Homo sapiens: one gene and its partner. The protein of the gene in region 2 purifies or fractionates together with the protein of the main gene of each other region. This does not show direct contact. Each region holds a gene or a part of one and is shown on either strand. Other genes may lie near its edges.

What was found.
Region 1: the proteins of FKBP9 (region 2) and CASC3 purify together in Homo sapiens (co-immunoprecipitation; 2 studies listed by BioGRID and IntAct, with this or other methods). This does not show direct contact.

The regions. Positions count from the first base shown.
Region 1 is NC_000017.11:40,168,008-40,171,656, reverse strand, and holds part of CASC3 (protein CASC3), read right to left. Parts: intron 3,455-3,649; coding exon 3,240-3,454; intron 2,334-3,239; coding exon 2,211-2,333; intron 2,060-2,210; coding exon 2,036-2,059; 3' UTR 1,995-2,035; intron 1,211-1,994; 3' UTR 1-1,210. UniProt on the Homo sapiens protein: Required for pre-mRNA splicing as component of the spliceosome. Core component of the splicing-dependent multiprotein exon junction complex (EJC) deposited at splice junctions on mRNAs.
Region 2 is NC_000007.14:32,963,859-32,967,507, forward strand, and holds part of FKBP9 (peptidyl-prolyl cis-trans isomerase FKBP9 isoform 1 precursor), read left to right. Parts: intron 1-3,649. UniProt on the Homo sapiens protein: PPIases accelerate the folding of proteins during protein synthesis.

The sequences.
Region 1 (3,649 bases), on a different chromosome or scaffold from region 2:
TGGTTTAGTGCCATGGATAGGGAGGAAAGATAGGAGCCCTTGCCCAGAAGGTGACTGGCTTCCTTAGGCCTTAAGCCCAGGAGTTTTTATATTCTGTCTGCAAGGACAAAAATAGAATTCGGGGAAAATAAGGTAGTAACATCTAAAACACTTGTAGCAGGAAAGACGTGGAGAAGAGCAATTGCAAAGGACAGGGTAGACTGCTTGCTGGATAATATTTGCCTTTAAAGAGATGCATTGGTCCACAGCAACTGGAAAAGGGGTGTAGCAAGAAGAATGGAAAGAAGAGAAGCAAGGCCCTCTAATTCCACTTACCTCAAAAGACTGAGCCCTGAGGACTATGTGAATACACACCCCTAAAGGCAAAGGCTCTCACTCCACCATCCCTTTCTCACAAAAGCATCTGGTGTGCCATCTCTCCCCACAGTAGGGTATTGGCCCTCAGCAGAGAACAGAAGCCCATCATAGTACAGGTATTGATGGATGCTCAGACTCCTAAAAACCTAAGTCAAAGAGAAGGGCTCCTACCCACCTACTCTGAGCTTTTCTGCACAATGGGACCCTCTGTGCAGACAGCCATGCTTCCACAGGGTTAGAGTTAAGGGAATACAAGTATACAAGAGGATAACAAATGCCAACTAAAAGTGAAAGGCCAGGTCTTTTTAGACTTGGTGGGGAAGGCTGGCTGATACATTCTCCATTATCTGGGATGCACGGAAGAGTCAAAAGGGAATCCAGAGGGGCTAGAAAACCAGAAGACTAGACTTGTTTCATTTAAAGGCAGGGAGAGAGAGCAAGAAACAGAAACAAAGAGAAAAAATTAAAATAATATTAAGGATAAGAAGCCAGGCTTTAAAAATGAACATCTTAGAAAACAAAACAAACAGGAAGGAGCTTCCTTGGGAACAGAAGACACTTCAATTTCCCAGAAGTGAAGAACAGCAGAAGACATGGGCTTCTGTATCTAGACTCAGAAGCTTGGGGCTGTCTGGCTCTCTCTGCTCCCCCGAACACAGCCAACTCAAGTGAAGAGTGAAGATGGGACGAGGTCCACTTGTTTCTCCCTCTCTCTAGAGCCTGTCCTCAGAGGAAGGCAGGGGTCCTCCTCTTTCAGCTGTTTGCTGGTAGGAGCCACACCCTATATCTTTGAAGCCCTTCTGGTAGTAGATAGCCAGCTGTATTTCTCTTCTGAGTTCTCACCTCTGCTGCTCTGACAGGGGTTGGAAAAAGGGAAGAACCACCAAAGTGTTAGTGGGCCTTCTGGGCATTCACAAGCTGTTTTCAAAAAGCCACACTTCTAAATAATGTGTTTTAAGTAATGTCCTTAAACAAAAGCAACAAAACCCCCAGTCCTTCTCCTCTATGATCTTTAGAACTGGTTTTTTCTGCTATAACATCTCAAATTTAGATTTCCCTTTTCCTTGACTGCCTTCCTGTATTTTTTCCTTGTAGCTTCCCAATTGAAAACTGTCATGTTAACAATCGTTTCTACTTCAACCCTGCCCAATACACTTGCCAAACAAACAAACTGGCAAATTTCAGGACTCCTTTAAGCCTCCTGAGATATCCCATGATTATTATAACTTAAAGCATTAATCAGAGGCTGGGTGGGGTGGCTCACACCTGTAATCCCAACACTTTGGGAGGCCAAGGCAGGTGGATCACCTGAGGTCAGGAGTTCAAGACCAGCCTGGCCAATATGGTGAAACCCCATTCCCACTAAAAATACAAAAATTAGCCAGGTGTGGTGGTGCGTGCCTGTAATCCTAGCTACTTAGGAGGCTGAGGCAAGAGAATCGCTTGAACTCAGGAGATGGAGGTTGCAGTGAGCCGAGATTGCACCACTGCACTCCAGCCTGGATAACAGACTGAGACGCCGTCTCAAAAAAAAAAAAAAAAAAAAAAAAAAAAAAAGCATTAATTAAGTGATTTTTGTTTATTAAGCAAGTGTGAGCATTAGTTTTAACAATATTCACAGTAAGTTGTGCACTTACTTTTATATGATGTTAAGATTTAAAATATTCAGAAACTTGTATTAACTGGAACCCCTGCTTACAACCTGAAATAACAAAGTTGGAATTTGTTATCAGGTCATAACAAAAAGACTGTTTTCCAGAGAAACACACCCAGAAAATGAGGGAAATCCTCTGGGGAGAAGGAAAGCCCACTGACGGAGCATGTGCATTAAGTATAGGAAGGAACTCTCATACCTCAGGTGGAGGGGGCTTGATGGTGACTGGCTGGGGAGTCCTCCGGGGTGGGGAGGGCTTTGGCTGCACCTGCTGCTGGGCGGGGTTATAGTAGGTCACTCCTCCATATACCTGTGATGGGGCCTGGGACCCCACAAGCCAGGAGAAGAAAAAGTTAGGAATGAATTCATCCAACCTATGATGAACAGGAAATATTATTCAGCCATAAGAGAATTGGGGAATTTATAATTTTAAAAATATCTAATCTGCCCACCCTTCAAAATAAAGTGACTATTCATTTTTGCCTTAATTCTTCATTATTATGCTCTGGTTTTTATTTCTTCAAAGTACTGCCCAGCTTTCTCTAATTCCTACCATCAGCTGACAAATGGAAAAGGCTGAGTTCAGTAGCGACACTACAGATACTTGATTATGTCAACGTGGTGGAAGTTAAGCAGGACAGAGGTAGGGGTGATAAGGAGTAGAATACAGCTTCTTTATGCAATAGAGTAAAAACCAGGTATTGCCACCTATGATGTACCACAACACAGGAAAGAAACACCATTAAAGAAACTGAACGCTGGGTGCGGTGGCTTATGCCTGTAATCCCAGCACTTTCGGAGGCCGAGGCAGGTGGATCGGTTGAGGTCAGGAGTTTGAGACCAGCTTGGCCAACATGGTGAAACGCCATCTCTACTAGAAATACAAAAACTAGCCGGGCATGGTGGCAGGCACTGTAATCCCAGCTACTCGGGAGGCTGAGGCAGAAGAATCGCTTGAACCCAAGAGGTGGAGGTTACAGTGAACCGAGATCACGCCACTGCACTCCAAGCCTGGGCAACGGAGAAAAAAACTGAAAAGAATAAAGATGATGGGCATTACATAAGCTGCATTTCCAGCTCCTGACCACTAAGAGGCGTCTTGGTGTCACATACAAATCAGTGGCACTGAAAATGTTCTCTCAAATTCCTTTAGCATTCTCCCCATACCACATTCCTGTCTGAATTAAAGAATGTGTATCTAGAAAAACATGATCATTAGCCATCTCACCTGTGTATTAGGATACAGATGAGGCGGTGGTGGGGGAGGCAGTGCCCCTGGAGCATAAGGGTAACTGGGATTACCAAAGTTCATGACGCCTGGAGCAGAAAAGTAAGTAGGAGCAAGCAACTGCTGAGGTGGTGGCTGTCCTGGAGACATGGACACTGGTGGGGGATAGAGGCCTGGATTGGGCAGAGGAGCTGGTGTCTGGTGGGGATGTAAACCTGGATAAGGAGAAGAAAAAAACTGAAAAATAAAGTAACATCATTTTCACAGGATGGCCCGGCTGGACTGCTCAGTATAATCAGGCTCAGAATGGAAGTCCTCAGGATGGACACAAGAGGAACTTGTTGCCCAAGCAGCCAGGATGGCCAGACTCCCAGGCTAGCAGCACAAAGCTCAGGAGGATGGGTTTTGTG
Region 2 (3,649 bases):
GAAATAATCTGATGGGTCCTGCTTGGGGCAGGTGTCTACCCTATTGGGTGTTAAGTCACATGGTCCTAAGTGGGGGCCCAGGCTCACCCTTTCAGCAGGACTGGTCCACAGGGAAGAGCCAGTAGGCTGGACAGCAGCCAGGATGCAGTCAGGGGGGCCTGACAGGGTCAGTGGTGTCAGAACAACTGGCCAGGTCAGGACATGCTAACTTAGGAGTTGTTTAGAGTGTGACTGCACATTGCAGCTCTTTTTATGGAGAAGGAGAGTGCTGAAACGGAGGCTGCTACCGTGCATTAGCCCTGTGCGTTTCTGCTAACTAGGGGAAGATCCTAGCTACTTCTCACTGTGGTCTCCTGAGGCCATTGGCAGCTGGCCAAGCACCCCTGGTGAAGACTTATTAGCGTGGCTTTGAATTTTCATTTGTGGGTCATTGCGAGCAATTACACATTTATATTAACAATTTAATTTGGCTGTATGGTATTTTACTGGGCTAAGCCCTGTGAAAAATGGGAATCATCTATAGGGATCTGACATTTTAATTTGTGCAGTTGCTTAAAAACAAAAATCCATAACAGCAATGGATTTTGCTTTGCTTTGCAAAGTTTTTCATTTAATGATGTTTTAATGGGTCAAAGCCCATCCAAGCCAACAGCTCATGTTTCAGGGTCTGATTCTCTGAGGAGCTATGAATGGAGGCGTTCTCTTTCATTTCTTCTCTGTTCCCGCTTGCTCCCTCTCTCCTCCCTCACCTCCTCTAACCTTCCTCCTCTGCAGCGTTCTCACACTTTCCCGTCTGGGTAGTTTGCCAGTTCATTAACTGCTTTTCTTTTCTCCCTGGCATGTCTCATTAGCTACTGGTAGAGATGGCTGTTTGAGGGAAATAGTCTTAGGCAAAGGGTCCAGAAAGCCCAGAGTCCCCTTTGGGAGTGAATGTGTGGAGAGGGAGGTGTTAGGCAGAAAAGCCAAACTCTGCCTCCCTGCTTTCAAGTCTGCAGTAAGATCAGTCTCAGTGGTGAAACTCAGCCAGCAGAGGGGGTGAGTCTCAGCTGGGAGCTAGGCGGCCAGTGGGGAGGTGAGTTTCAGTCCCATTCGTGAAGGGTGGTGGCAGGACCACAGTCCAAACGTCAAGCAGGTCCCCTGTGAGTCAGCCATCTGAGTTGGCCCAAGTGAGACAGGACCAACTTTGAGGCCCCCAAAGGGTAGTTCCCGTGCCCAGTGGACTTGTTCTTCCTTACTTTGCCTCCCTTCTGTTATGGGTTCTCAAAATATGGCAGTCTTTTTTTTAATTTCTTTCTTTTTGAGACAGGGTCTCACTCTGTTTCCCAGGCTGGAGTGCAGTGGTGCTCACAGCAACCTCTGCCTCCTGGGTTCAAGCAATTCTCATGCCTCAGCCACCCGAGTAGCTAGGATCACAGGTGTATGCTACCACACCTGGCTAATTTTTGTATTTTTGGTAGAGACAAGGTTTTGCCATGTTGCCCAGGCTGGTCTCGAACTCCTGAGCTCAAGTGATCCACCCGCCTGGGCCTCCCAACGTGCTGGGATTACCGCTTGAGCCACCATGCCCAGCCTGTCATTTGTCCTTTTAAAAGCTCGTTCTTATTGCAGATTTAAACCTACATTTAGAAGCCCCATTCTGCCTTAAGAATATAGCCGTGGGGGCCAGGCACGGTGGCTCATGCCTGTGATCCTGGCACTTTGGGAGGCCGAGGCAGGTGGATCATGAGGTCAGGAGTTCAAGTCAGCCTGACCAACATGGTGAAACCCCATCTCTACTAAAATTACAAAAATTAGCTGGGCGTGGTGGCGTGCACCTGTAATCCCAGCTACTCAGGAGGCTGAGACAGGAGAATTGCTTGAACCCGGGAGGTGGAGGTTGCAGTGAACCAAGATTGCACCACTGCACTCCAGCCTGGGCAACAGAGCGAGACTCCATGTCAAAAAAAAAAAAAAAATATATATATATATATATATATATATATATATGTGTGTACAGATATATATATATACATACATATATATATATAGAGAGAGAGAGAGAGAGCCATGGGGGGCTGGGCGCGGTGGCTCATGCTTCTAATCCGAGCACTTTGGGAGGCCAAGGCAGGTGGATCACCTGAGGTCAGGAGTTCAAGACCAGCCTGGCCAACATGGTGAAACCAAATCTTTACTAAAAATACAAAAATTAGCTGGGCGTGGTAGCGTGTGCCTGTAATCCCAGCTTCTAGGGAGGCTGAGGCAGGAGAATTGCTTGAACATGAGAAGCAGAGGTTGCAGTGAGCCAAGATCGTGCCACTGCACTCCAGCCTTGGTGACAGTGAGACGCCATCTCAAAAAAAAAAAAAAAGAATATAGCCATGAGGATAGTTATTTATCTCAAGTAATGTGTTGCCAATATAATGTGAGCTTTTGTGTAGGCAGTTTAGTGTGTTGACTATGATGTCTCTTGTCTTAGTGGTCCTTGGGTTAATAATTTTAAAGAGCATCATCAGAGGGTGCTACAGACAACTTTCCCATCACCCCCCTGGGGCAGTGATGGAAGGGGATAAAAACAAGCTGATGGAGAGAAAAGGAGGGTGTTGGATGTGCTAGGTGGTTTCCATTTGCCTTTCTAGGTCCACCCTTCACCTGTTCCATTTGCTTTTTGCTCTGGGAGGCTGACATGTATGGACTACATGTGCATAGTATGGGTTGCATTAATGACTCTTTGTCTTCTGGCTTTGGTTGGGTTCAGCCATTGGGACATTGTGATAAGCCATTCCTGCATCACTGGAAAGAAATACCCAAGGCTGGGTAATTTATAAGAAAAGAGGTTTAATTGGCTCACAGTTCTGCAGGCTGTACAGGAAGCATTGCATGCTGTCGTCAGCTTCTGGTGAGGACCTCAGGAGATTTATAGTCATGGTGGAAGGGAAAAGGGGAGCAGACATCTCACATGGCAAGAGCAGGAGCAAGAGAGAGGGTGGGAGGTGCCACACACTTTTAAACAAGCAGATCTGTGAACTCATTCATCACCGAGGGGATGGCGCTAAGCCCTCCCACCAGGCCCCACCTCCAACACTGGGGATTACATTTCAACATGAGATTTGGCATGGACACAGATCCAAACCCTATCAGGCATCAGATGTTCAAAGCGAGGGAAGAGAGTGAGGTGAAGGTATGTATTCCTCTGGCTTCCTGTCTGTAGGGTCACCATGGATTGTGGCCCTAAACTAAAGGGCCCGGTTCCTGTCAGGTAACCCCTAGCTGCCCTCTCTGTCTCTGTCATTCAAGCTCAGGTGTGATAGCAGCATTCCCCACCCAGCCACAGAGGTACTATCCCTTGTGTTTTGCTGTGTTCTGTACACACCTTTGCACACACCCACTTTGTTATTACTTTAAAAAAACCATCAAATTTACCATTGTAACTGTTTTGAACTGTATAATAGTGTTAGCTATATTCACACTGTTGTGCAATATATCTCTAGAATTTTTCCATCTTGCAAAATTGAAACTTTGTGCCCACTGAACAACTTCTCTGCATTTTTCCTTCTTCCTTGTCCGCTGATAACAACATTCCACTTTCTGTTTCTATGAGTTTAACTACTTTAGATACCTCATATAATTCGTGGAATCATGCAGTATTTGTCTTTCTGTGACTGGCTTATTT